Linked DNA regions of Homo sapiens. The protein of the gene in region 3 interacts with the protein of the main gene of each other region in a pairwise test. Each region holds a gene or a part of one and is shown on either strand. Other genes may lie near its edges. The genes, in order: BLCAP, PRAM1, SKAP1 and EEIG1.

Evidence for each region.
Region 1: the proteins of SKAP1 (region 3) and BLCAP interact in binary tests that used the Homo sapiens proteins (3 or more experiments, as listed by UniProt).
Region 2: the proteins of SKAP1 (region 3) and PRAM1 interact in binary tests that used the Homo sapiens proteins (3 or more experiments, as listed by UniProt).
Region 4: the proteins of SKAP1 (region 3) and EEIG1 interact in binary tests that used the Homo sapiens proteins (3 or more experiments, as listed by UniProt).

The regions. Positions count from the first base shown.
Region 1 is NC_000020.11:37,517,851-37,524,880, reverse strand, and holds part of BLCAP (apoptosis inducing factor BLCAP), read left to right. Parts: intron 1-427; exon of another isoform or gene 428-504; intron 505-1,190; exon of another isoform or gene 1,191-1,984; coding exon of another isoform or gene 1,985-2,214; intron 2,215-2,442; coding exon of another isoform or gene 2,443-2,523; intron 2,524-3,429; exon of another isoform or gene 3,430-3,477; coding exon of another isoform or gene 3,478-3,549; exon of another isoform or gene 3,550-3,631; intron 3,632-4,291; exon of another isoform or gene 4,292-4,443; intron 4,444-4,577; exon of another isoform or gene 4,578-4,645; intron 4,646-5,530; 5' UTR 5,531-5,706; coding exon 5,707-5,970; 3' UTR 5,971-7,030. Other genes in the region: NNAT (neuronatin), read right to left, coding at 1,985-2,214, 2,448-2,523, 3,478-3,549. UniProt on the Homo sapiens protein: Acts as a tumor suppressor; induces growth arrest at G(1)/S checkpoint and apoptosis via RB1-dependent and p53/TP53- and NF-kappa-B-independent mechanisms. Modulates expression of genes involved in the regulation of proliferation, cell cycle and apoptosis.
Region 2 is NC_000019.10:8,492,614-8,499,643, forward strand, and holds part of PRAM1 (PML-RARA-regulated adapter molecule 1), read right to left. Parts: coding exon 5,763-7,030; intron 5,677-5,762; coding exon 5,610-5,676; intron 5,228-5,609; coding exon 5,151-5,227; intron 1-5,150. UniProt on the Homo sapiens protein: May be involved in myeloid differentiation. May be involved in integrin signaling in neutrophils. Binds to PtdIns(4)P.
Region 3 is NC_000017.11:48,133,215-48,140,244, reverse strand, and holds the end of SKAP1 (src kinase-associated phosphoprotein 1), read left to right. Parts: intron 1-2,907; coding exon 2,908-3,009; 3' UTR 3,010-3,016; intron 3,017-6,428; 3' UTR 6,429-6,803; downstream 6,804-7,030. UniProt on the Homo sapiens protein: Positively regulates T-cell receptor signaling by enhancing the MAP kinase pathway. Required for optimal conjugation between T-cells and antigen-presenting cells by promoting the clustering of integrin ITGAL on the surface of T-cells.
Region 4 is NC_000009.12:127,949,990-127,956,989, reverse strand, and holds part of EEIG1 (early estrogen-induced gene 1 protein), read left to right. Parts: intron 1-3,064; coding exon 3,065-3,185; intron 3,186-3,385; coding exon 3,386-3,415; intron 3,416-6,300; exon of another isoform or gene 6,301-6,450; coding exon 6,451-6,567; intron 6,568-7,000. UniProt on the Homo sapiens protein: Key component of TNFSF11/RANKL- and TNF-induced osteoclastogenesis pathways, thereby mediates bone resorption in pathological bone loss conditions.

The DNA.
Region 1 (7,030 bases), on a different chromosome or scaffold from region 3:
CAAGGTGACATGTCCAGGTTCCCTAGGCTGATTGATGGCAAAGTCAAGACCAGAACCGGGATCTGCACCTCCCCACCCCTATAATTCTCTGATACCGAATGAAGTTTTAGATGCCTTTAGAGGTGCTGGTGATTGGGCTAAGAAACTTAAGGGCTTGCTTAGGGGAGGGAAACATGATCAGGCTTAAGGGGGCAAGGTACTTTGTGCTTCAGAAGTATTTGTGACAGCTGTGACTAAGGGATTCGAAGAAGTGGCAGGAAGAGAGATTTATGGCCCTCCAACTCCCTCCCTTGGTGTTGACCCAGCAACAGGTGTGTAGTGACAGGGACACATAAAGCCAGAGACAAGGCTGAACAGGCGGCAGGGCCATTTGGTGAGACAGTCAGCTGACCCCGTGTAGAAAGAGCCCTGACTCACTGGGGAGTGGGAGAGGAAGACAAGTCCGAGGCCGAGCACTGCCCACCCTGACGTGATGGCAGGGGAGAGCCCAGGGCCACGGACCTGGTAAGCATTCCTAAGAATACGGAGGCTGGTGCTGGGAAAAGCAGAAACCCAGTATTGGGGAGAGAGGTTTCTGGGGTGAGGTGGGGCCAGGAGACCCTGCAGAGTAGCAAGGCCAGGCAGATTGTCTTTGTAGTGGTCCTGGTGGATGTGGGGCCTGCAGCATTAAGCTGGGTGAAGAAGGCGCCACGCTGCACCTCTTATCCCATACTCATTGTCTAAGCCACTGTCCACCCTGCCCACTACTCATTTCTTTGGGGCTCCTGGATGGAGACCTGAAGTAAGGCTTTGTGTTCTGAAATCACCCCCTTGGTCCCTAGTACCTCTTTGGAGGGCTACTCCCACCTTTTTCCCCTCCTCTCATCTTTCCCAAAGTGATACTTGCTTTGGCCCCTTATCCTAAGACCACAAGTAAAGCACCTATCCCTTTGGGGAGGGGGAAGTGGTCCCTTATTCCAGGACCACAAGTGAAGATGTCAGCCTTTCTCTTTGGGGAGAGGGGGAGATGGTCCTTTATCACAGGACAGCATTGAGATGGGGTTGGGTGTGTGAGGGGCCCAGCTTATTGCAATTTTGATGGCCCTCCTTTTCCTCCCTCCCCCAAGCAGTGTGCCTGTTCCACAGTGGGCACATCAGCTGAGTCTTAGAAGTGTATGTTGATGCCGCTAAAGAAATCACAAGAGACAAAGTTTTGGTGCGCCTCTACTGCACCGCAGGGTCCTGGGACACTGTGCGAGACAGGGGAGGTACTTTTTTTATTTTTTGTAGAGGTGGTCCCTGTCCTCCAGGAGCTTACAATCTAGCTGGGGAGACACAACTAATGCACACTTAAACAATCAGTACAATTAGCGATTACCACAATATTGACCACAACTGCATGAGACCAGGGAAAAGCAAGATCAGTGAGGGGCAAGGGGGGTTCAGAGAAAGTGTTTTAGTAAAGGTGGGATTCATTTACTTTTACTGCTTGAATAGTTCCAAATCAAGTGACACATTATTTTGGAGTAGGGTGGGCTTGGGAGGCAGTGAGGAGGAAAGGGGAATCGAGAGAGCAAATGCAGCGAGGCTGGAATGCAAGTGCCCTGGGCAAGGGACAGCGAGAGGGCCCCACTGTATTTCTTAACCACCCTCCTTCCTCAACTGTGCCCTCCAGTCCCGCCACACAGGCACGCGGTTGGTGCTGCACCAAGATTCAGGGCGTCGGCTGGCGATGTCAGAATGTCCATTCTGCTGGCTGGTGCGGTGTTTTGATTTCCATGGTGGGGCCTGCTGGCATGGCCCTGGCTTCGGGGCTGGGATGGTGCTGTCCCGACTTTGTCCAGATCAGAATGCGGTGCCTATGCCCAGATCTCAGGGGTCTGCTCCCCCTATCCCCCCTCCTCTCTCGACCCTGCCCCTTAGTGGGACCGGTGCAAAGGGGTTGGGAAGGGATCTGGTATCTTCGTCATTGTCGGTACTGCTTCTCCGGGGGTCTACTGGCCCCTCACTGACCTTGCCAAGTGCTCCTCTGGCGAGGGAACACAGGGGACCCCACATTCCTGCGCGGCACTGGCTCCCGTGCTGGCCGAGATGCACAGGAGCACCTGATGATACGGCCGCCCAGGGCTGGGAGCTGGGGCCTCAGTTGGGGGCTCGCTGCCTGCGCTCCCCCAACACCTGCCGCCCGGTCCGCGACACCGTGTATGCCAGCTTCTGCAGGGAGTACCTGAACACCTGCGACGAGAAACCCAGGACCCACCCTTAGTGGAGAGCACCCACAGCATGTCTGTGGTGCTGCCGTGCCCACCCCCGCCCCACCCCCTGCCCCGCCCGCCCATCCAGCGTAGGCTGGAGAGGCGGGCGCGGGCGCAGCTTGTCCACGAGTCAGGGCAGCTGGAGCTTTTCCAACTGTGCTGAGAGCTGCATGGCGGCAAGCTGATTGGACCCACAACTTAGGTATACCTCACTTCTCGCAATGGGCTGTGTCCCTGGAGGATTTCGAAAAGCGAATCCTACCCAGTAAATGCAGCATTCCAGGAACACCTTGAAGGAAATATGCGATTCCTTTGGCAAAGGATTCCTTTAGCAGGGAATTCTTCCTGCAAAGGGAGCTTTTAGGGTAAATGATTTTATGGGCAAAGCGCTTTCTTCTGATTTATCTCTTTTTACACCAAGCGCTTTTGCCTCTTTTTTATTTTTTTTATTATTATTTTTTTTTTTGTAAAGCAATTGTCCTTTTTTGGAAGTGCTTTTTTTCCCCTTCTATTTTTCTCTCGAGGGGCTTTTTCCTCTAATTTTTTTCTTTAAAGCGTTTTTGCCCGATCCATTTTTTTCCGTTAGCTCCCTTGTCTAATTTTTTTCTGCAGTGCGTTTTTAATCTAATGCATTTTTTTCTGCCAAGTGCTTTTCTCCGATTTATTTTTCCTGCAATGCGCGTTTTTCTGTTTTCCTGTGAACTACTTTTTCTCTAATTCGTTGTAGGGTTTTTTTTTTTTGCGAAGTAATTTTTATTTTTTCTGAGAAGTGCCTTTTTCTAACTTATTTTTTGTTCCACCCCCGCAAGCGCTATATGTTTTTTTAAATAAAATTTCTCCGCAATGCGCAATTTTTTAAGGTGGAAAATTTTCACTCTGCGAGCTGTAAAGTCTTTCAACACAGTAGTGCCCCGCCTCCCTCCTGGGGTCGAGTCCGGGTGTAGCGGGTTTTTCTTACCGCGTAGGTCGCTAAATGCCTGGGTGATCGTCCGCAGCGGTCGCCCGCCGCGCCCCGAGTCTTTGTTCCCTGGCAGGCGCGGGCGCACTAGGGAGGGTCAGCGCGAGGAGGACGGCGCAGGGAATGGGCAGGGGGCGCGCGGTGCCGGCAGCGGCACTTGGGCAGGCAAGGATCGCGGCAATCGGAATAGGACGGGTCCGGGAAGCGGCAATCGCGACGCAGTCTTGCGGGTTCTAGGGGCGCGAGTTGGGAACCCTCTCCCACCCGAAACCCCGTCAGACTTACCTGCAGCAGCACGCGGAAGATGTACCAGCCGATGATGAGCAGTTCAGCCGAGGCCGCCGCCACTGCCGCCATGGTTCCAAGAATGGTAGGTGGGTGGTCGAGAAAGAGGGTTTGCCGAGATCCGCTGGTCTCGGAGTCCGCTGTTGGGCGCACTGCCGCAGCCGCGGTGGCCGCGCCTTAAGTACCCGCCCGCCACCTAAGTGCGCATGCGCGCCTTGGGGGGTGTTTATGAGGAGGGGTGGCTGGGGGCGCTCCTCATTCGCCAGGAGAGGAAAAAAATAATCCATCTGCTCTTTCCATACCGACCCCCGCCTCCTGAGTTCCATCTTAGCCCCCTTCCAGAAGATTCCGCCGTGCTTGCTTTTGGATTTTGCTTTAAAATGGAGGGGTACCACGACTCTGGGTAGAGTACAGGGCGAGAATGGGGGTGCAGGTCTCTTAGTGTGGCGCCCTTCTCCCCAGTCCCTGGCCTGCAAATTTGAGCTCAGTCTCCGGTGCCACTCCAAAGCCTACCTTGGGGATGGATGGAAAACCGAAATTAGGGAGGGGTCATCTGCCCCATAGAGCAAAAAACGTGGTGCCCCTTTCAGAAGCTTTGGCATAATAGGCCCGTGCTCGGCGCTCTTTTCCTGATACTGAATGAGTTTTAAGCCCAGGTCCTCTGCTTCATGAGGGTGCCTGAGCGCGTAACCCGTCTGATTCTTTACATCTCTCTTACGGTAGCGAGGAGATGAGAATCTGCGGTGGAGGTCGCTACTGTAGGGAGCTGAGCCAGAGCACTGCGCTTTGGGCGCAAAAGCAGTAGTCACCCGGTATCTGTAGGAGGGATACAGGAAGGATTGGCGCCCTTCGTATGCACGGAAGGAATGAGCTCTACGGAGAAGTGGTTGGAATATGCTTGGGGATAGTTTTCTGCTGGACAGGTCGTTTCGACCTCAGTCTTCCGCTCCCCTCCCCCAAGCCCTGGTAGGTCGGCCTTAGCCAGTGGGGTTCTTTGTACCCGTTGCGCTGTGCGGCTGGATCACCGAACGGGGTTACGCTACCGCTACCGGAGGGTTGTGGCTACCGCAGCCCCGTTTCCAAGTGAGGCGGGTCCCTTTTAGACCGCCAGTCTTGTGGGTCCCTCGCACAGCGCGGATTTTCGGGCGGGAAGACCGGAATGCGGTTTGTGAGTGTGGTCCCCGCGCACCGGTAGCCAGCCGAAAGCACCTCTTTCCAGCAAGCTGCCTGGCCCAGGGACCAACTGGCATTTGCCCCTATGTGGATAGAAAATTAATTTTCATTAAAAGCTCCCAGAGGTCAGGTTCTATACAGTGCCAGCAGCAGATGGAGGTGTAATGATCCAAACGAGTTCAGTTTGGACAAAGTAGCATAGTGACTTTTTTTCTACATTGACTTTCGGAGAAGTTGGCAGATTCTGGCAAAGTGACGCTGGGCTGTTTGAAAAAGGCAAGCTTAGCCTAGGCTGCCATCTTAAAATATTTCGAGGCTGTAGCTGCCTCAGGATCCTTTGCCTGTGGTCTGGTGGCCGGCAGTGCCCCGCTAACAGCTTTAACTCTGCACTTAGTGCCTGAGCACCTATGGCTGTGAGAGATGCTAGATACAGAACCCTGTCCTTACCACGTGGGGGCACAGCAGGGAGCCCTTGGTCGTCCTTTGGCAACCACTGGGCGGTATTGTGAGGTCTGGGCCCCTTGAGGACGGGCTGCAGCCCCAGGAGGCGATACATGATCTCTGCTGGGCAGGGCCCAGGCAAAGCCAGCCCACTGTGTGAAACCGTGCCAAAGAGCCCTCTCCCCGATCCCCCAGGAGAAGCCCCGGGGAGACATCCCAGGAAGCTTCCCGAATTAGTGACTTGGAGAGGAGTAGAACTTTCACGGGTGGGCAGGGAGGAAAGGGCATTTCACATTTGCTGTTGTTAACCATGATCCATTTTCCCAAATAAGTATACATTCTGTTCCTGTTTTTTTTTTTTTTTTCTTTTTTTTTTTTTTTTTTTGTCTGTCTGTCTGTTCTTTGTCTGTTTGTCTGTTGTGTTGACTTTTCTCTTCAGGATCCCTGCTGCCTTGGTGATCCCGGGCTGACAGCCAGAGAGCACAGCGGCTCAGCTCCTGGAGAGTGAGGGTTGAAGAAAGCGGAGGGCAGCCGCCTGCGCCCGCTGGCTCCCATTAGGTCGGTTCCTGCAGCGGTGCCCGGCAGCCTTGGTGAAGGCCCTGCCCGGCAGAGATCATGTATTGCCTCCAGTGGCTGCTGCCCGTCCTCCTCATCCCCAAGCCCCTCAACCCCGCCCTGTGGTTCAGCCACTCCATGTTCATGGGCTTCTACCTGCTCAGCTTCCTCCTGGAACGGAAGCCTTGCACAATTTGTGCCTTGGTTTTCCTGGCAGCCCTGTTCCTTATCTGCTATAGCTGCTGGGGAAACTGTTTCCTGTACCACTGCTCCGATTCCCCGCTTCCAGAATCGGCGCATGATCCCGGCGTTGTGGGCACCTAACGGCCTGCCCTGTTAGCTTTCCAAGGAAGCAGAAGACGGGAGGGGAGGCATTGACATAGGTCATAAAGCATTGGAGTTTCAAATCCCGCAGCCTCGCGGGTGTCACATTCCTGACGGCGCCTTTTTGGCCTGTGATGTTTTATCCTTACAATGTGAATAATGGCACTGACCGGTGCTTTTATTGTAAAGTCCTATAGTCGTGGGTGGTCTTGTGGTTGTGTGTGTTCTGTCCCCATCTAGGTCCTGGCTGGCCGCATGACCACCCCTCTCGCCTCATTACTGTGAGGAGTCTGGGTCCATCCTGGTCAGCTGCCCCAATGTGACCTGGGGCAGATAAAATGCCAGTCTCATTGTCACCTCTGTGACCCCTCCTTGTCAGGGTCTCCTTCCTTCCCAGAATGTTACTGACTCCTCAGTCCCTCTTCTGGTTTCCCTTTATTTCTCTTCTACCCTTTTCCTTTTTTGGGGAGTACCTGTCCAAGACAGGGCTCATTTTTGCACTTATCTCGAATTTGAAGAGATTGCTGACGCCCGAGAGCCTCGCTTTTTCATCCTTCTTTCCTTGTTCAGCAGGCTAGACAGAAACATGTCTTGACTGTTAGTTGTCCACAAATCTTCAGTATTTTCTCCACTTCATTTTTAAGAAAGGAAGCAACAGATAGATGTTGCTCTTTCACCTGGGTGTCTGGGCTCAAGCTTTCCCGCCCAGCCTCACTTCCTTTGCCCTTCCTCCTGCCTTTCTCAACTGTCCCAAGGAGGGGGCCTCATTGTGTCTCCCGTGCATGCTCTGCAGCATTGAAGTATGGTGTGTTCACGTAGTTCTAGCAGTCCCCAGCTGAGTGAGTGGGAGAGTACCTGTGTGTTTCGTAACGGCCTTGATCCCCTTGATAGATGTTTGGATATTTTTTGGTGTGCCCTGTGTGTGTGTGTGTACAAATACATGTGTATATTCCTTTTAAAGAAGCTTTATCGAACGTGGTCTGATTTTGAGGTTTAGCAATAGCTAGCTATATATGGTAGGTGCCGCTACAGTTTTTATTTAGCATGGGGATTGCAGAGT
Region 2 (7,030 bases), on a different chromosome or scaffold from region 3:
TGAGGAGAGGCTGGCCCATGGGTACAAAGTTACAGTTAGGAAGAAGAAATTGGGTGTTCCATTGCACAGGAGGGCAATGATAGTTGACAGTAAAATATCATGGCCAGGCATGGTGGCTCATGCCTGTCATCCCAGCACTTTGGGAGGCCAAGTCGGGCAGATCACTTGAGGTCAGGAGTTTGACAGCAGCCTGGCCAACATGGTGAAACCCTGTCTCTACTAAAAATACAAAAATTAGACGGGTGTGGTGGTGGGCGCCCATAATGCCAGCTACTCAGGAGGCTGAGGCAGGAGAATCGCCGGAACCTGGGAGCTGGAGGTTGCAGTGAGTCAAGATGGCGCCGCTGCACTCCAGCCTGGGCGACAGACCAGGACCCTGTCTCAAAATAGTAAATAAAAATAATTTTTAAAAGATGCTGCTAGGGTAAGCGTCCTGGACTGGTGACTGATGATGAGACTCTGGACTGAGGGGTCTCCCATGGTGCCAGTCTCCCTGTGCCACTTCCTGGCAAATGACCAGGCTCCCAAGTCAGAGCCCTGCTGGCCAAGGAATTGGCTTCAGGTGGGAGCCCCAGGAACCCTGGTGAGTGAAAGATCCAGAACCCAGAGCCCCAGCATGTCCTTTCCGAATGGCTCAAAGTATCCCGCCGGACATTTCAGGCCTGTAGTCCCTCCAAGCAGCCCAAGGAGCAGCACCTGAATCGTGCCCGCCAGATACCAGGCATGGCCATCCACAGTCTCACCTGGAACACACAGCCCCTCCAGCTGCTCCTGCCTCTCAGAGGCTTCCCTGGCCGTGAGCAGTCACTCCACCAGGAGCGAACCTGACCTTGGCACTCCAGGGTCCCTGCAAACCCGCCACATTAGAGCACCTCTTGGCACCGCCATGCAGGCAGCCCTGGTTCATCCACAGCTGACCCAGAGCAGGCCTCTGCCCGCCTTCCCCGCATGGCCAGCTCAGATCCCTGGGAAAGGCTGGGCTCTCCCCACCTGCAGAGGAGCCCCCTGCCTTCCAGGAACCTCTGCAGTGGAGCTGCCACTGCTCCAAGTAAGGCAGACAGTGGGAAAGGGGAGTCCAGAGTCCTGGCCCCAAGAGACCTAAGCTGCCTTTGAGAAGCTGCACCCACAGTGAGAAGCCCACGCCACTCCTGAGAAGCGGGAGATCCAGGGAAGTGGGACCTTTTTTTTTTTCTTTTTTTCTTGAGACAGGGTCTCGTTCTGTTGCCCAGGCTGGAGTGCAGAGGTGCAATCTCGGCTCATTGCAGCCTCCATCTCCTGGATTCAAGCGATCCTCCCACCTCAGCCTCCCCAGAAGCTGGGACTACAGGTGTGCAACACCATGTCCAACTAATTTTTGTATTTTTAGTAGAGACGGGGTTTCACCATGTTGGCCAGGCTGGTCTCGAACTCCCAACCTCAACTGATCCGCCTGCCTCCACCTCCCAAAGAACTGGGATTTTAGGCATGAGCCACCGCGCCCGGCCCCTTTTTTCTTTTTTCCTATCAGAACCTCAAATGACTGGCAAGGAAGGGGGAGAAGGTTATTTGGTGACAGGAACAATGGGCCAAGGGTGGGGACTGTATGAAGTTTGAGGAGAGGCAGATGCTCCTAGCCTCGGAAGAGGTGGGGGATTCCAGCAGGGCTTCTGGGAGTGGTTGGAGGCAGGCTGTCACTAGCCCAGGCGCTCAGCAGCCCCACTCCTGGCCATCCGCATCCCCAACGGTGGCCCCCAGACCCAAGCCACAGAGCCTCCCCTAGAGCGGAAGCAGAAGGGGCCCCACCAGGAAGCTGTGTGCTCACAGGGAGGTGTTGCAAGAAGCTCAGGGAGAAAGCCCAGGAGAAGCAGAGGGGGCCTCTCTGCCCCAGGCCCTCTGAGGCTGTCAGCGAGAGCAGGAGCACCTTAGAAGCTCAAGCTCTGGCCCCCGCTGAAAGCCCTGCCACAGATCCAGCTCGTGGACCAGCTGTGCAAGCCAGGGCAAGCCCCATCCCAGAGCCTCAACCTTGCGTACCTATTTTTTTTTCTTTTTTTTTTTTTGAGATGGAGTCTCACTCTGTCACCCAGGCTGGAGTGCAATGGCAGGATCTCAGCTTACTGCAACCCCTGCCTCCCAGGTTCAAGCGATTCTCCTGCCTCAGCCTCCCAAGTAGCTGGGATTACAGGCGCCTGCTACCACACCCAGCTAATTTTTTGTATTTTTAGTAGAGACAGGTTTTCACTATGTTGGCCAGGCTGGTCTTGAACTCTTGACATCAGGCAATCCACCCGCCTTGGCCTCCCAAAGTGCTGGGATTACAGGCGTGAGCCACTGCGCCTGGCCTTTTTTTTTTTTTTCAACTGAGACAGACACAGAGTCTCACTCTGTCACCCAGGCTGGAGTGCAGCGGCGCGATGTCAGCTCACTGCAACCTCCACCTCCCGGGTTCAAGGAATTCTCCCACCTCAGCCTTCCGAATAGCTGGGATGACAGGTGCATGCCACCATGCCCGACTCATTTTTTTTTTTGAGATTGAGTCTCACTCTGTCGCCCAAGCTGGAGTCCAATGGCGTGATCTTGGCTCACTGCAACCCTTCCTTCCCAGGTTCACGCGATTCTCCTGCCTCAGCTTCTCTAGTAGCTGGGACTACAGGCACGCACCACCACACCTGGCGAATTTTTGTATTTTTAGTAGAGATGGGGTTTCTCCATGTTGTTCAGGCTGGTCTCGAACTCCTGACCTCAGGTGATCCACCCGCCTCGGCCTCCCAAAGTGCTGGGATTACAGGCGTGAGCCACCACGCCCGGCCCCAGCTAGTTTTTTTATTTTTAGTAGAGATGGGTTTTTGCCATGCGGGCCAGGCTGGTCTGGAACTCCTGACCTCAAGTGATCCGCCCACCGGACCTCCCAAACTGCTGGGATGACAGGTGTGAGCTGCCACGCCGGGCCAGCCTTGTGCATCTGTAAAATGGGGGTGCATTGCCTTACTGCCCTGTGGGGATTTGGGAGTGGAGGGTACGGATTTAGGGACAGGCAGGCAAGGTGCTTGCCTGGAAGCTGCTTGTGTTTTCATGAAGGCATTAACTTTGGAGTGGAGGGTACGGATTTAAGGACGGATTTAAGGACAGATTTAGGGACATGCAGGGAGTGGAGCGTACAGATTTAGGGACAGGCAGGCAAGGTGCTTCCCTGGAAGCTGCTTGTGTTTTCATGAAGGCATTAACTTTGGAGTGGAGGGTACGGATTTAAGGACAGATTTAGGGACATGCAGGGAGTGGAGGGTACAGATTTAGGGACAGGCAGGCAAGGTGCTTGCCTGGAAGCTGCTTGTGTTTTCATGAAGGCATTAACTGTGGAGCTGGGCAGGAGGTGCGGGCCTGCTCCCTATTCACCCAGCACAAACTTCTAAGAAACCTTTGGCAGCCTCCCTCCCCTGCCACTGCCACACCTGCCTGCAGGCCACACCTCCCCCTGAGTTTCAGGCCCAAGTTCTGCCTGGACATCCCCTCAGCTACCTTGAACACAACAGGTCTAAGTAAATCAGGCTGGGCGTGGTGGCTCACGCCTGAAATCTCAGCACTTTGGTAGGCTGAGGTGGGCGGATCACGAGGTCAGGAGTTCAAGGCCAGCCTGGCCAATGTAGTGAAACCCCAGCTCTACTAAAAATACAAAAATTAACTAGGCATGGTGGTGGGCGCCTGTAATCCCAGCTACTTGGGAGGCTGAGGCAGGAGAATCGCTTGAATCCAAGAGGCAGAGGTTGCAGTGAGCTGAGATGGCACCACTACACTCCAGCCTGGGCGATAACAGAGCGAGACTGTGTCTCCAAAAAAATAAAAAATAAAAATATAAGGCCGGGCGCGGTGGCTCATGACTGTAATCCCAGCACTTGTGGAGGCTAAGGTGGGTGGATCGTTTGAGGTCAGGAGCTTGAGACCAGCCTAGCCAACATGGTGAAACCCCATATCTACTAAAAATACAAAAAGTAGCTGGGCTTGGTGGCACGTGCCTGTAATCCCAGCTACTCCAGAGGGTGGGACAGGAGAATCGCTTGAACACGGAAGGCAGAGGTTGCAGTTAGCCAAGATCACGGCACTGCACTCCAGTCTGGGCAACAGAGCGAGCCTCCATCTCAAACAAAAAAACGAATACATAAATAAATAAGGGTCAGGCGTGGTGGCTCACGCCTGTAATCCCAGCACTTTGGGAGGCCAAGGCAGGTGGATCACGAGGTCAGGAGATCGAGACCACGGTGAAACCCCATCTCTACTAAAAATACAAAAAAATTAGCTGGGCGCGGTGGTGGGTGCCTGTAGTCCCAGCTACTGGGGAGGCTGAGGCAGGAGAATGGCATGAACCCGGGAGGCGGAGCTTGCAGTGAGCTGAGATTGCTCCACTGCACTACAGCCTGGGTGACAGAGCGAGACTCCATCTCAAAAAATAAATAAATAAATGAATGGATGGATGGATGGATGGATGAATGAATGGAACCTAACATCTTGTCGTCAACCCAGGGGCGGCTCTGTCATGCCCTTGGGTGCTAGGCTTGAAACTTCCCTGCTTTATATACCACCAAATCCTGCTTTTTTTTTTTTTTTTTTTGAGACAGGGTGTTTGCTGCCCAGGCTGGAGTACAGTGGTGGAGTCACAGCCTCACTGCAGTCTGCAGTCTCGACCTCCTGGACTCAAGCAATCCTCTTGTCTCAGCATCCCAAATAGCTGGGACTACAGATGCTTGTCACACCTGGCTGATTTTTAAGTTTTTTTGTAGAGATGAGGTCTCGCTCTGTGGCCCAGACTGGTCTGGAATCTTGGGCTTACGGGATCCTCCTGTCTTGGCCTCACAAAGCCCTGGGATTGGCTCAAACGATCCTCCTGCCTCGGGCTCCCAAAGCTCTGGGATTACAGGCATGAGCCACTGCACCCGGCCTGATGCCTGCTTTTGATTACTGAATTCACCCACTGCTCCCACATCTCCTGCTGCCAACCTGGGCCACACCTCTGCCTACAACAGCCTTCTCACTGGTCCTTCGCCTCTGGGCTCCCCTTATGTAGTTCCACCCAGCAGGAGCCAGCAGGTCCTAAAATGTTACTTGCTCTTACACCAGGAGCATGGCAGAAAATGGCCTTGCCCCGAATGTTTTGCAGGGACTCGGGCAGGCCACCAACAAACCTCTGCCCTTGGGGCTGGGGCTGGAGTCATCTCTGGGTTCCACATCGTCATACAGCTCGTAGATCTCATCTGGGACCCTGCGGGGATACCTGAGATGAGGCCTCTTCTTTTTTTTTTTTTTTTTTTTTTTTTGAGACGGAGTTTTTCTCTGTTGCCCAGGCTGGAGTGGTGCAGGGGCATGATCTCGGGCTCACTGCAGCCTCCACCTCCCGGGTTCAAGCGATTCTCCTGCCTCAGCCTCCCAAGTAGCTGGGATTACAGGTGCCCCCCACCACACCGGGCTAATTTTTGTATTTTTAGTAGACGGGGTTTCACCACGTTGGCCAGGCTGTTGTCGAACTCCTGACTTCAGGAGATCCGCCCACTTCAGCCTCCCGAAGTTCTGGGAGCTCCAGGCCGAGATGAGGCCTCTTTGAGCCCCACAATCCGCACCCACCTCCGCTTCCTCCCCACACTCACTGCGGGATGTCTTCAGGCTGTCGGTCCTGGAAGTGGAGCCCAGCGGCCGAGCGGGTCCTCCGTAGATCTGTGGGGTAGAGAGTAGGGCAGGGAAGCCGGCACTGCCTGGGACCTCAGCCCCCGCTCCTGCCGGTGCCGCCCGCCCTCACCCACCTATGGATGCTGCAGAGGGTCTCCGAAAGCTCTGCATATCCACGGGCCCCGGGGGCAGCGGGGGCTTGGCTGGAGGGTGTCCCAGGCTGCTGGCAGGGGGCAGAGGCCTCCGCCGGGGTGGATGGCTGGGTCTGAGGCCTGGCCTGGCCCCTCCACTGTGAACCAGGCCTCCTGACCTCCAGCGGGGTGTCCCAGCCGCTCCAAACCCAGGGCTGAGCGGGTGCCGGGAGCTGAAGCCGGCCACGGCCGCAGGCAGTGAGCTCTCGGAAGCGGAGCTGGGGAGTGGAGGCTTTCGAGGGAGATCACCGAAGAACTCAGGCTGCGGGTGTCTCTTGAGGACAGCGCTGGGCTCAGGCTGTGAGAACTTGCGGGGTGGCCCCCGGCGCTCCGGCTGCAGCAGCTTCCTGGGGAGTGAGTTGAACTCGGGCTCTGAGGAGGTCCTGGGGAGGCCGCCCAGCTCGGGCTGCGGGGGCTTCTTGGAGAGCGCTTTGAATTCGGCCGGCCGCGGCCTCTTGGGAAGCACGCTGACTTCGGGCTCTGAGGAGGTCCTGGTGAGGTCCCCAAGCTCAGGCTGCGGAGGCTTCTTGGGAAAGTCACTCAGCGGAGGCTGGGAGGCCTTTTTGGGAAAGGCGCTGGAGTCGCGCTTCGGCTCGCTGGACTGAGGCTTCCAGAGGGGAGTCTGAGCGGCCTCGCTGAACTCAGGCTGCGGCACGGACTTCTTAGGGAGGCCACCGACCTGAGGCTGCGGAGGCTTTTTGGGGTACACGTTGAACTCAGGCTGCGCAGGCTTCTTGGGAAAGGTACTCAACTCAGGCTGCGGGGACCTCGGGGTAGCCTCACCGGCCTCGGGTTGCCAGAGCTTCCTGGGGAATGCGCCGGATTTGGGTTCGGAGGGGGGTCTGGCGGGGTGACTGAGTTCGTCGGGCTGCAGGGGTTTCCGGGCCGGCGCACCAGGCTCCGGCAGCGAGGCCTTCAAAGGGGCCTCACCGACCTCAGGCTGCAGGGGCTTCCTTGGAAACGGAGTGGCCCCCAGCTGTGGGAACTTCTTGGAGAGGTCACTCAACTCCAGTTTGGACGGCTTCTTGGGGAGGTCAGTGACCTCAGGCGGCGGGGGCTTCTTGGGGAGGTCAGTGACCTCAGGCGGCGGGGGCTTCTTGGGGAGGTCAGTGACCTCAGGCGGCGGGGGCTTCTTGGGGAGGTCAGTGACCTCAGGCGGCGGGGGCTTCAAGGACACTGCACCAAACTCAGGCAGCGGGGCCTTCTTGGGG
Region 3 (7,030 bases):
GACTGAGAAGTGCTCAGGGAATTTGAGCAATGCAGAGGTTACAGGAGACCATGGAGAGAGAGCCTAAGTAGAGGACGGCAACCAAGCCTGATGAGAGCGGCTTCAACAGTGAACAGGAAGGAAGTTGGAGCAGTGAGTGAGTAAACTTTCCCAACAAGTGTGGCATAGACTAGAAGAAATGGGAAGTAGACATCAGTGGCAGCTATTTAATGGTTGTTTTAAAAAATGAGAGAAACTTGAACACCTTTCAGTGCTGGTGGAAGGAGCCATTTACTTTACAGGCAATGGTCAGTCTCCACAGAACCTCATCTCTCGGAAAGGAAGGAGGAGGGTTGCAAGTGCGTGTTGTGAGGGGTAGTCTTAAACCAGGGGAGGGGTGCTTCCCCGACTTTAATGGGAAAGAAAGATGGTTGTCAATACAGGTAAGTTCCTGCTTTGGTGGCTGGTGGCTGACAAATCTGATGGCTTCTCTTTTCCCTTTGAAGGTGGAGAAGAGGTTGTCAGAAGCAACATGAGTTTGAGGAGGGGAGATATTAGATATCATAATTCTATGATAATTATATGCATCCAGAGATAAAAAGATCACCAGATAATGCTAGGGACTCTGAATTTTACATATCACCAATCTGGTTTTACTTCTTTTGTTTTGTTTTTCCTAATAGTACTCAGCAACCAAGTGTACAAAGAAGCAGTTAGCTCTTTGGTACCCCAAATCCAATTGAACTGGAATATGTGATATTTCCCATACTTAAAATTTCATTCGGGGCCAGGCACGGTGGCTCATACCTGTAATCCCAGTACTTTGGGAGGCTGCGGCGGGTGGATGACGAGGTCAGGAGCTCAAGACCAGCCTGGCCAACATGGTGAAACCCCGTCTCTACTAAAAATACAAAAAATTAGCTGGGCGTGGTGGTGCACACCTGTAGTCCCAGCTACTCAGGAGGCTGAAGCAGAAGAATCGCTTGAACCCAGGAGGCAGAAGTTGCAGTGAGCTGAGATCTCACCACTGCACTCCAGACCGGGCAAAAGAGCGAGACTCCATCTCAAAAAAAAAAAAATTTATTTTGGCCAGGCACAGTGGCTCACACCTGTAATCCCAGCACTCTGAGAGGCCGAGGTGAGCAGATCACGAAGTCGGGAATTCGAGACCACCCTGGCCAACAGGGTGAAACACCGTCTTTACTAAAAATACAAAAATTAGCTGGGCGCAAGCCTGTAGTCCCAGCTACTCAGGAGGCTGAGGCAGGAAAATCATTTGAACCCAGGTGGTGGAGGTTGCAGTGACCCAAGATTGTGCCACTGCATTCCAGCCTGGGCAACAGAGTGAGACTCTGTCTCAAAAAAAAAAAATTTTTTTTTCATTCTAATTTTACTTCTTTCAAAAGAAAGAAAACATTTTCTGGTGCTATCAGAAATAGCCCCATACTCAGAGTGGGCACAGTGGCTCACGCCTGTAATCCCAGCACTTAGCAAGGCCGAGGCTGGTGGATCACTTGAGGTCAGGAGTTTGAGACCAGCCTGGCCAACATGATGAAACCCCATCTCTACCAACAATATAAAAAATTAGCCAGTTGTGGCCAGGCGCAGTGGCTCACGCTTGTAATCCCAGCACTTTGGGAGGCTGAGGCGGGTGGATCATCTGGGGTCAGAAGTTCAAGACCATCAAGGCCAACATGGTGAAACCCCATCTCTACTAAAAATAGAAAAATTAGCCGGGCGTGGTGGTGCGCGCCTGTAATCCCAGCTAATCGGGAGGCTGAGGCAGGAGAATCGCTTGAACCTGGGAGGTGGAGGTTGCAGTGAGCCGAGATTGCGCCACTGCACTCCAGCCTGGGAGACAGAGCCAGACTCTGTCTAAAAAAAAAAAAAAAAAATAGCCGGGTGTGATGGCACGCACCTGTAATCCCAGCTACTCAGGAGGTTGAGACAGGAGAATTGCTTGAACGTGGGAGCCGGAGGTTGCAGTGAGCTGAGATCTTGCCACTGCACTCCAGCCTGGGCGACAGTGCGAGACTCCGTCTCAAAAAAAAAAAAAGAAATAGCCCCATACTCTTCAACATCTGCTGTGCTTTTGAGAAGCTTTTCTGTATTCAAGGAGCTGCATCCTCACTCTGTGACTACCCCTTAAACTCTCTTTAAAACCCTCTCATCCTCTTTCTTGTTTGTTCCTCTCTGTGACTAGCCTGTCATTATTAATGTACCTGTCACCTCTCACCTGTTCTAGGGAAAGAATCTAATGTTTAGAGCATCTACTATGTATCAAACACTTTCAGTTGTTTTTACTTCAGTGATACAATTTACATCCCCACAAGATAGAAGGGAGATATTATCCCTACTCTCACAAAGAAGCTAAAGCTAGGAGAACCTAAGGTCATGTGACTACTAAATGACCAAGCGAGGATTAGATCTCAGTCTGTCTGACTCCAAAGCCCATTACTCTGCTGTAAGCTCCCAAGGAGCAAGCAATCTTCTGATTCATCATTACATACCTCATGGGAACTCAAACAGCACTTTGCACATAGAAGATGCTTGATAAATATTATTGATTTGAACTATGACTTGACCCCTTGAATATCTGTAGTGTTCTGGCAATTTAATGTGTGCCCAACTTTCTCTAAGAAGCCATACCATTCGGCTTGGTTTAAAAAAAAATGCTCTTCAGGTTCAGCAAGGGCATCAAATGTGCTAATTTTACAATGTAGACAGGAAGATGGCAAAAGGAAAGTGCTTGCTCTCTTCCTCTAGATGATTTTTTTAAATTTAATAATCCCATCAGGGAAGTTAACAGTTCACAGTGATAATGGCAACAATGAAACCACCAAACAGAATCTCCCATGCAATCACTAGAATAAATGAGCAGAAGCATGAACAAATTCTAACTGACGCTATCCTCTTTTCACTTTTCAGGAGTATAACATGTATGGCTGGTGGGTGGGAGAACTGAACAGCCTCGTTGGGATTGTTCCAAAGGAGTATCTCACCACTGCCTTTGAAGTGGAAGAAAGATGAAACCCAGGTATCAGAACCATGGCCAATGAACTGCCTAATAGTTGAGTGGAACTTGTGGGCCACTACTTTGTTTCTCTGAAAGATGAGAGTTGCCAGTGAAGTAGCTTTTCTTCATTTCTCATACTAATGCTAGTGATTCACCACTGATGGAAAGAAAATGCCTCTGGAATTGTTTTTTTCTTAAATTTGGGGACAGTGTCACTTAGGATAAGGTTCAACTAATAGCAACATAAAATCTAAACTAAAAATGACTTAATTAACACAGAAAGCCAGGCACAGTGGCTCACACCTGTAATCCCAGCACTTTAGGAGGCCGAGGTGGGCAGATCACCTGAGGTCAGGAGTTCGAGACCAGCTTTACCAACATAGTGAAACCTCATCTCTACTAAATATACAAAAAAAAAAAATTAGTCAGGTGTGGTGGTGGGCGCCTGTAATCCCAGCTACTGGGGAGAATCGCTTGAACCCGGGAAGCGGAGGTTGCAGTGAGCCGAGATCACACCACTGGACTCCAGCCTGGGCAACAGAGTGAGACTCCGTCTCAAAAAAAAAAAAAAAAATTAACACAGAAATGTATTTTTCTCTTCTGCAAAAATCTAGAGGTAAGTGGTCCAAGGTATCCAGTCCCAGGTACCTTTTCTTTTTGTTCTTCTCTGTGTGCCCAACATTCTCAAGGTTACCTCAAGGCCAAGACAGATGCTCAATCTCCAGCCATCCTGTCTGCAACCTACACAGCACAGCAGGAAAGATAAAAGGAGAAGGTCAGGCCGGGCGCAGGGGCTCACGCCTGTAATCCCAGCACTTTGGGAGTCCGAGGCGGGCGGATCATGAGGTCAGGAGTTCAAGACCAGCCTGGCCAACATGGTGAAATCCCATCTCTATTAAAAATACAAAAAATTAGCCAGGCATGGTGGTGTGCACCTATAATCCTAGCTACTCAGGAGGCTGAGGCAGGAGAATCGCTTGAACCCGGGAGGCATAGGTTGCAGTGAGCCAAGATCACGCCATTGCACTCCAGCCTGGGCAACAGAGCAAGACTGTCTTGAGAAAAAAAAAAAAGAGAGAGAAAAGCATACCCTCTTCCTTTAAGGGTACTTCACAGATGTTGCGCACACACTTCCTTTCACATTCCATTGGTCAGAAGTTGGAATATATGGACACAGCAAGCTGTAAAGAAAGCTTATAGCCCTGTGTCCAGCTTAGAATTGGGAGATTCATGATTAAATACAAAGGGAAGAATGGATATTGGGATAAAACTAGCAATTTTTGCCACAGGGATGGATCTAGGTTTATCCCCAGCTCTCAAACCCAGGGCACCATTTCCCCAAAATCCCCACATATTGCAATATGACTGACCAAGATTAGGAATCCAATATGAGGATTCCTTATATTGGAACATATGAAATATTGGAACTATGGAACATAATCAAATTAACTTTTAAGTAATAGAGAATATGGTTTGCAGGGCCAGGCACAGTGGCTCACACCTGTAATCCCAACACTTCAGGAGGCCAAGGCAGGAGGATCACTTGAGATCAGGAGTTTGAGACCAGCCTGGGCAGAAGGTCTCTACAAAATTTTTTTTAAAAAATTAGCCACGTGTGGTGGTGCACGTCTGTAGGCCCAGCTACTTGGGAGGCTAAGGTGGGAGGAATGCTTGAGCCCAGGAGGTTGAGATTACAGTGAGCCATGACTGCACCACTGCACGCCAGCCTGGGTGAAAGAGCAAGATCCTGTCTCAAAAAAAGAAAAAGAATAGGTTTGTGTTGTATTAGCAAGAACCACATTGTGTTTCAAAATAGTGGGGGTGGGTGCCTGGTTTGGGTGGAGTAATAGTGGGAGCCACTTTGGTGCAGAGTGGGTTTTGGTTAGAATTAAGATTCTGATGGAGGGCCCCCAAGACCAGCATGTTGTCACTAGCTCCATCTTCTGGCCTGAAATAGGAGCAGTCTTCACTGCTGGGGGTAAAGAATGGCATCAGTGTGACAGTGATACAAACATTCCTTGGAGTCCAGACCAGAGCCCACTCTAGTGTGCTGCAGCAGCTGAGTGAACTCATTTAGGAAAATACATAAGGATAGATCTTATTCTCCAATGCCCTTGTACAACCATACAACACCAGCTCAGGCCTGTCACTCAAGGTTTGACTTTATGATTTTCCTGATGAAGACTGTTTCATGGCCACAAGTATAGAGGGTTGGAATTTTTCTGTCAAATCTAAACAAATCCAGCCAGCCGGGCATGGTGGCTTACACCTGTAGTCCCAGCACTTTCAAGGCCAAGGCAGGTGGATCACTTGAGGTCAGGAGTTCGGGACCGGCCTCACCAACATGGTGAAACCCCATCTCTACTAAAAATACAAAAATTAGCCAGGCATGGTGGCGGGCACCTGTAATCCCAGCTACTTGGGAAGCTGAGGCAGGAGAATCACTTGAACCTGGGAGGCGGAGGTTGCAGTGAGCCGAGATCGCGCCATTGTACTCTAGCCTGGGTGACAGAGACTCCATCTCAAAAAAAATAAATAAAAATAAAAAACAAATTCACCCTTTTCACTCTGTCATTTATTTGTTTATCTCTTCATTGTCTTTGGCCCAACAAATCTATTTCTAAGAATTTATCTGGCCAGGCGCAGTGGCTCACGCCTGTAATCCCAGCACTTTGGGAGGCCAAGGGGAGCAGATAACGAGGTCAGGAGTTCGAGACCAGCCTGACCAACATGGTGGAACCTCATCTCTACTAAAAATACAAAAATTAGCCAGGCGTGGTGGCGGGCGCCTGTAACCCGGCTACTCAGGAGGCTGAGGCAGGAGAATTGCTTGAATCCACGAGGCGGAGGTTGCAGTGAGCTGAGATCAAGCCACTGTACTCCAGCCTGGGCAACAGAGCAAGACTCCATCTAAAAAAAAGAATTTATCCTATTGACCATTTTTGGTTTGGGTAAAAAAAGAAAAAAAAATAGAAATTATCCTACAGCTATACTTGCACATATGCAAAATGACAGGCACATACGGTTCATTGTAATAGCAAACACTTGGAAATGACCTAAATGTTTAACAGAGAACTAGTCAAATAACTATAGTACATTCATAGAAGTGAATATTATGCAACAGTAAAAAAGAAAGGGAAACTGTGTGGAATACATTCTGAAATATGTTGGTAAGTTTAAAAAAAATAAAACAGCAAAGAATGGGAGCCAAATTTGCCCCATTTGTATAAAAAAGGACTGGAGACTATATATACCTATTTGTTTATATTTGTATGGGATATTTCTGGAGGGAGACATGAAATGATAACATGGTTGCCTCCAAGGACAGAGAAACTGTGAGACAGGGTAAGGGGGAAAACATTATACTCTGTGCCCTTTAATACATCTATATTTTGAATCACAAAAGCAAATTTATGTATTTTTCCTCCTTTAGGAAATATATTCTTCCCTCTCTCCTGCCTTTATGAGGAAACTGATCATCAAAAGTTCCCACTCCCTACTTCTGCCACCCCACCAACGCCTTGGACTCCTCTCTTTGCTGAAGAGACCCAAGTCTCTTGACACCTCAGAGTGACTGTAAGCTACCAGTAAGACAAGTGGGAAGAGGCACGTTCATCAAACCTGTTACTAAACCAGCCTAGTCATAGCTCATCCCCATCTCTAAATGTGTCCACACAACCACATCTGCCTTTTCCACAAGCTTTTCACAAAGAAGGTGAGAGAGAAGGAAACCTTGGGAGGAGGACATTACTGGTTGTTCTGGCTGGTTTGAAAAGCACAAATAAACTTGGGATGTGGTTCCTTGCCATGTGTGATGATGTTGAGCTCCTTTTTGTAAGATGATATCAATATGTCAGCTCTGGGCATTTTTACCACCTCCCAATAAAGTGGAGATAGCATGAGAGAAAACAAAAGCCCAGAGAAAAAAGGAGACTTGGAATTGTCTTTCAGAGCAGAATCTTCTCTGGAATCCACGTCTATTGTTTATTTTTTGTCTTTTTTTTTTTTTCTGAGACAGAGTCTTGCTCTGTTGCC
Region 4 (7,000 bases), on a different chromosome or scaffold from region 3:
GTAATCCAGCACTTTGGGATGCCATGGCAGATGGATCACTTGAGGCCAGGAGTTCGAGACCAGCCTGGCCAAAATGGCAAAACCTCATCTTTACTAAAAACACAAAAATTAGCCAGGTGTTGTGGTACATGCCTGTAATCCCAGCTACTTAGGAGTCTGAGGCACGAGAATCACTTGAACCCAGCAGGTGGAGGTTGCAGTGAGCCGAGATCGTGCCACTGCACTCCAGCCTGGGCCATAGAGTGAGACTCTGTCTCAAATAATAATAATAATAATAATGGCCGGGTGTGGTGGCTCACGCCTGTAATCCCAGCACTTTGGGAGGCCAAGGGGGGCAGATCACCTGAGGTCAGGAGTTCAAGACCAGCCCGGCCAACACAGTGAAACCCCGTCTCTACCAAAAATAGAAAAATTAGTCGAGCTTGGTGGTGGGCACCTGTAATCCCAGCTACTCAGGAGGCTGAGGCAGGAGAATTGCTTGAACCCGGGAGGCAGAGGTTGCAGTGAGCTGAGTTTATGCCCTTGCACTCCAGCCTGGGCAACGAGAGCGAAACTCCATCTCAAAAAAATAAATAAATAAAACAAAATAGTTTTTTAGTGGATTCCTTAAGTGTTTTCTGTATAAAAGATCAAGTCATCTGTTAATATAGTTTTAGTTCTTCCTTTCCACTACTAGGTATTTTTCTTATTTATTTGGTCTTCTTCTTTCTCCTCCCACCAGAATGTAAGCTGGTTACTGCTGTGGTTCGAGTGCCTAGAACAGGGCCTGGCACACACTGGTGCTCAGTTGTTTGATGATGAATGAATGAATAAGTGGAGCCAGCATGACTAGGCTCAAGTGATGCCCCCAGCCTAGGGCCCCCACTCCTGTGGCACCTGCCTATAGGGATTAGATCTGTCCCTTCCTCCCGTCTTCAGCCCTGACCTTTCTGCTTGTCCCCAGTCTTGGTTGCAGAGGGTTGTTGGAGCTCACCCTCCTAACAAGCTAGGTGCATTCTGGTGACATCACAGAGCCTTCACCGGGCCAGGCACTTTGCAGGATTCATTTCACTCAGTGCTCCCACAACAGCAGCCACGACAGGGGCGGTGTGCCCCAGTGAGTGTGCAGGGTGTGGCCCAGGTCTGCCTGCCCTCTTGACCCTTGTCACCGCCTTGGCAGGAGCACAGGGTAAGCCTTGGTCACATCCTCAAAGCCTTGTGGAGCCTGGAGGGGGCTCCTCATAGAAAGTGAGGCTTAGGGGCTTTCATTGGCTAAGGAAACGGGACTCCCTCATTCATGCTGTTTCCTCTCTTTGGAACTGTCTCCTCCACCTGGCTACTCCCCAGGCTCATTCTATCCTGAGCTTGAATGTCACCTTCCCTGATTCATCTGTTCCCCCGCCCTCTCCTGGTGACAATGAGTCATCACTGGGTAAATACAGTCTGCAGTGGCTCATCCCAGCACCTGCTTGGCACTCAGAGACCTGGGCGGTGCCTTGGGGCAGAGCAGGGTACTACAGGCCCCACAACACCACAGGTTCTCCTCGCCAGGCTTTCCCGGGCTCCTGAGCCAAAGTGGCGACTGAGAGCCCTGACTCTGAAGTCATACAGTCCTGGGTTTAAATCCTGCTTTGCCAATCACTGGGGATATGAGCTCGAGTGGCGGGTAGGGTGGCCTTCTTTTGGAGCTTCAGTGCCCTCAGCAGTAGAAGGGGTGGCATAGAGCCCACCTTGCAAGACTGCCATGCAAAGCAAACCTGGCGATGCTCAGGGGAGGCTTGGCTGCGGCCCTCTCCGACCCTCTGCCCTGAGGCCTCGATCTGGCAGTTAACCCACTCTCCTCGGGTCACTTCCTTAGCTGTCCCCTTGGCGGTTGTGCTTAGGTGGGATGAGCTGGAGATAACGTCTCTCACACTGTCTCCTCCCTTCCCTGGCCACCCCTTCCTGAGCACGGGCTCTGCCAGGCAGGCTGTATGGAGATGGGGAGCTGCTCGGGGATGCAGAGCTCGGTTCTGCCACGTGCCGCTGCCACCCCCAGATCCTGCCAAGGCCCCCGCAGCAGTTGGGAGGGGCTTGGATGAGCTGCTGCCACTGGCTCCCACTCACTCCCAGGGCACAAAGCATCTCTCCAGTAGAGGGGTGCTGAATTTTTCAGCATGGTCATGCTCTCCAACTCAGGAGGAACCGGGGGGCTAGAAGACCAGAGCCCTCTGCTTAGTGTTGGTGAAGCTGAAGCCCCCAGGTCGCTGTCTCCGCACCCAGAGTCCAACTGCTTGGGTTAATCCCCATTCTGCTCTTACCTGTGGTGGGCCTCAGGTGAGGGTCTTAGCCTCCGGGCCCCCAGTTTCTTTGACTGGGGATTGAGCTGATGATGTGGCTGCTCCATACAGAGGTTGGAAAGGTTTGGCATGACCACCTTTCTCTGGCACTTGGAGCAGGCTCCAGGGCCTGCTGGCTCTTGTGAAGTTCTTTGAACAGTGCCTGGCACATGGGAATCACTGTGTGGGTATCAGCTGTTGTTACTATTGTCATTGTTGTTATTAGTGATGAAGAAGGCAGCTCTGGAGTCAGGAGGAACCAGGCTTCAGGCCCAGCTCAGCTATCTACTGGCTGGGAGGTGTGGGGCAGCTTGCCTAGCCTCGGTCTCTTCATCTTTGAAATGGGCTGAGTAGTCCAGCCTAAGACTATTGTGAGGGTCATGAGGCGGTTGGCAGAGCCTGGCTTTGGAGGAGGTAATGGCAGTGCAGGGAACTGCCCAAGGTCTCAGAGCAAGGTGGCGGGAGCAGCACTGGGTACAGAGGGAGGCTCTGCAGGTTGCCAGGCTTCCTGGGGAGGGACAGCTGCCCTAGCTCACCTCACCCCTGCCTTGTGTTTGTCTCATTTTTATTACGTTTTCACTGTTGTTTTTACAACAACTACACGAGTACATTCTTGTGGTGAAAACACAGCTATTTTGTGACACAGAGTGAAAGTGGAGCTTCCCACCGCCTCAGTCCCAATGGGGAGTGCCATGTCCCTGGTACCACATGGAGTCCCCTGGCGCGGATGTGTGTGCCTGTGCTCACCTGTCGCCTCTGGCCCACAGGGAGGAGGTACAGGAGAACTGTGTGCGGTGGCGAAAGAGGTTCACCTTCGTGTGTAAGATGAGTGCTAACCCGGCCACCGGCCTGCTGGACCCCTGTGTCTTCCGTGTGTCTGTGCGCAAGGTGAGGCCAAGGGCGCATGTGGGGCTGCTGGGCTGGGCTATAGGCCCCTCCCCTCATGAGTCCGCACCCCCAGCTGAAAATGGGGTGAGTTGCTCTGCCCGTTGCCCTCCTCCCCTCAGATCTGGGGGGATTGTGGGAGATGCATGAGGTCCCTGGGATTCTGCAGTCAACTTGCTGCTTGTGTCTCCCTCCCTGTGCAGGAGCTGAAAGGCGGGAAGGCTTATTCCAAGGTAAGAGGGGCTGTGTGAAGGGGCAGTGGGATGGAATGGGGGGTGGCATGGGACAGGCACAAGGGAAGCCTCCAGCCCCTTTTCTGCCACAAGCAAGAGGCACTCAGCCCTACCTGAGATGTGTTATTTTTTAGAAATATCTTTATTGATGGTCTTTGCACTCAATATAAAGGCAGCATATGGTTGTTGCAATATAAATGGTACAGAAGTCCACAGAGCAAAAGGGCCAGTTTCTGTCCCCTTTCCTCTCTCCAGGCCTCTTTCTGGGACCCCATTATTGGATAGATTAAGACCTTTCCAGACCTTGTAAGAAGAAAAAAAGGAAATATACCATACAAAGAGAGCAGCAAATAAAATGTATGCGTGTGGTTTAAAGAAATGCAAAATGAGCACCCTCTGTGTGTACTGAAGTGCATGCAAACAATATGATTTTTTTTTTCCTCTGGAGACAGAGTCTTGCTCTGTTGCCCAGGCTGGAGTGCAATGGCACAATCTTCGCTCACTGCAACCTTCTCCTCCTAGGTTCAAACAATTCTCCTCCCTCAGCCTCCCGAGTACGGCTGGGCATGGTGGCTCACGCCTATAATCCTGGCACTTTGGGAGACTGAGGCAAGCGAATTGCCTGAGCTCAGGAGTTCAAGACCAGCTTTGGCAATACGACAAAACCCCGTCTCTACTACAGATACAAAAAAAATTAACCAGGTGTGGTGGTGCATGCCTGTAATCCCAGCTACTCGGGAGGCTGGGGCACAAGAATTGCTTGCACCCGGGAGGGTGGAGGTTACAGAGAGCCGAGATTGCGCCACTGCACTCCAGCCTGGGTGACAGAGCGAGACTCTGCCTCCAGATAAATAAATAAATAAACAGATTTGCAGCTTGGTTTTTTACTTAATCCATTCTGGGCATCTTTTTGTGTTATCACAAATTTCCATGTGCTTTCTAATGGCAGCAGTGTCCCGTGGCATGGCTGGCGATGGTTGACTCAGCCAGCCCTGCTGCTGGACATGTGCATTGTTACCAGGGTTTCACTGTACCCACAGACAGTTCAGCCCTACATAGTATTAAGAGCTTTTCTACTGGGCAAAGAGGGAGAAGACAGCTCTGGCTTTGAATAAGCCTGCTCTGCCTTCCATCCCTCTTCTCCATGGTGGACTCTTGGCCTCCCCTCCTCAGCTCCTGAGGCTTAGCCCAGTGGCAGGAGGGTGGGCTTCATCAGCCGGGAGGGGAAATGCCTTCGCCTCACCTCTCACCCGAGGGAGGCGCTATACAGGGCGTGGCCCTTCCCACTGACCAGAGCTCAGGAACTCAGCCGGCTGGGCAGTGCACTCTGCCCTGGCCCGGGGCGCTGACGTCCCTCTCCAGAAGCAGAGGACAGTATGGCTAGAACCAGGCTGTGGAGGGTGCTGTCACAGTGGAAATTTCTCTGATTCACACGGGTGAGGACAGCTGTGCAGCCAGGAAAGGAATTACCAGCAAACACCTGGGAGCATCTCACCTCCACTGGCAAACATTTACCAGGCACCCAGCACATGGCAGGCACTGCCAGGCCCCTTCCCTTCTGTTCTGTAATTGAACTCCCACTGCAGGCTTTACTCCCATTATACAGAGGAGGAAACTGAGGCCCTGAGAAGTGGCTGGACGTGGTGCTGATCAGGCCTAGTTTCAGTCCTGTCTCTGTTGGGTTAGCTGTTTGGCCCTGGGCAAGCTTCTTCCCCTCCCTGAACTTAGTTTTCTTTTCTTTTCTTTTTTTTTTTTTTTTTGAGATGGAGTCTCGCTGTCGCCCAGGCTGGAGTGCAGTGGCGCGATCTCGGCTCACTACAAGCTCCGCCTCCCGGGTTCACGCCATTCTCCTGCCTCAGCCTCCTGAGTAGCTGGGACTACAGGTGCCCGCCACCTCGCCCGGCTAATTTTTTTTGTATTTTTAGTAGAGACGGGGTTTCACCGTGTTCGCCAGGATGGTCTCGATCTCCTGACCTCGTGATCCGCCTGCCTTGGCCTCCCAAAGTGCTGGGATTACAGGCGTGCCACCGCGCCCGGCCTCTGTGAACTTAGTTTTCTCATCTATAAAATGGGGATCACTCTGAGTCCATGGCGGGGCTAGGATCTGAATCCAATTCCCTGATTCTGGAGTGTGTGCCCTGAACACTGCAGTAGAGACTTGCAGGCAGCAGTTACTTGACACTCATCCCTGATTGGTTCGGTTGGGTTCAAACATTGGTTCAAACATTTCATTATCTATCTCTTCTGAGCCTGTTGTATCTGGAGCAGAGCTGGGCAGGAGGTGGTAAGCAGAGGCTCTGGGGCCTCCTAGACCCTTTGCAGAGGGAACCGGAGATGTCTTCCAAGTCCCCAAGTCTGGCACCACCTCGTCTCAATCTCACTTTCCCCTCCAGGTCTAGCAGACTTGGCCTCCATCCACAGGGCCTTCTTAGCGCATGCCCTCTTCGCACTTACTCCCACTTCCCTCCCCATCCCTCGATCCTCTGTCCAGAGGTCCCAAGGGCCTGTTCAGACCCTGAACTCTGCCCAGCAGCCCCTCACTCTGTCCTCTACCAGGGCGCCTTCCCTGGGGCTCCTGCTCATCCTGCAGTGCCCCTCCCCTCCCAACCCCTGTGGGGGTGTCCCATCACTTTCCCCAGCACCCACTTCCCACAGGCCTTCCCTCCTCCCCTGCCTGCTGACCCGGCAGCTCCCGACAGCACGGCCTTGTTTCCCAGGGAACAATGCATCTGTGTCACGGACAACAATGTCCTTTCATGTCAGGCGCACTGGCCCCGGTGCACGCCGGGACGTGGCACAAAGGGTGCTTTGTGCAGCTCAGGGATGTGAGTTCCTGGCTTTGCCATGTTGGTGCTGCCGACCCGGGGCCTCTGTCCTTGGGTCCCAGTTATGCAACAGTCAGTCGAGGCTGTGGGGCTGGCCCAGGGGCTTTATCTGTCTCCCTCTCCAACTTTTGCCAAGTTACCCTTCTGGGCTTCCGCCAGCCAGGAGCCCACACTCCCTCAGCCCTCCCACACGCTCCTCTCACCTCCTAGCTGGGCTTCGCTGACTTGAACCTGGCCGAGTTTGCGGGCTCGGGCTCCACGGTGCGCTGCTGCCTGCTCGAGGGATATGACACGAAGAACACTCGCCAGGACAACTCCATCCTTAAGGTACCAGGGATCCTGCCACCTCTGCCACCCTGACCACGGGATGGGGACAAACCAGGCTGCTCATCAGAATCCTCTGGAGGAGGGTTGTTAAAAATACAGGCCTTACCTGAATAGGTAGACATCGGGAAGGGGCGAGCCCTGGAATCAGGAAACCACTATCAGAGGGAGGCCTGGCTCCGCTGTTGGCCTCAGTTTCCCCATCAAGTTCAGAGAGGGGGCCCTGACAGTCTCCAGGGTTTGGCAAGCACCTGCAGTGGGTTCACGTCATGCTGATTGCATGCCCTCTCTTCTCTTGTGGTCCCCTGACAGCAGCCCCACGAGCTGTGGTATCTTTGATTAGTCCCAGCTTCAAATGGGAGGGAGTTAAGGCACAGACGTTAAGTCATTTGCCTGAAGTCACAGACAGAGCTGGCACCTGACCACCAGCCAGTTG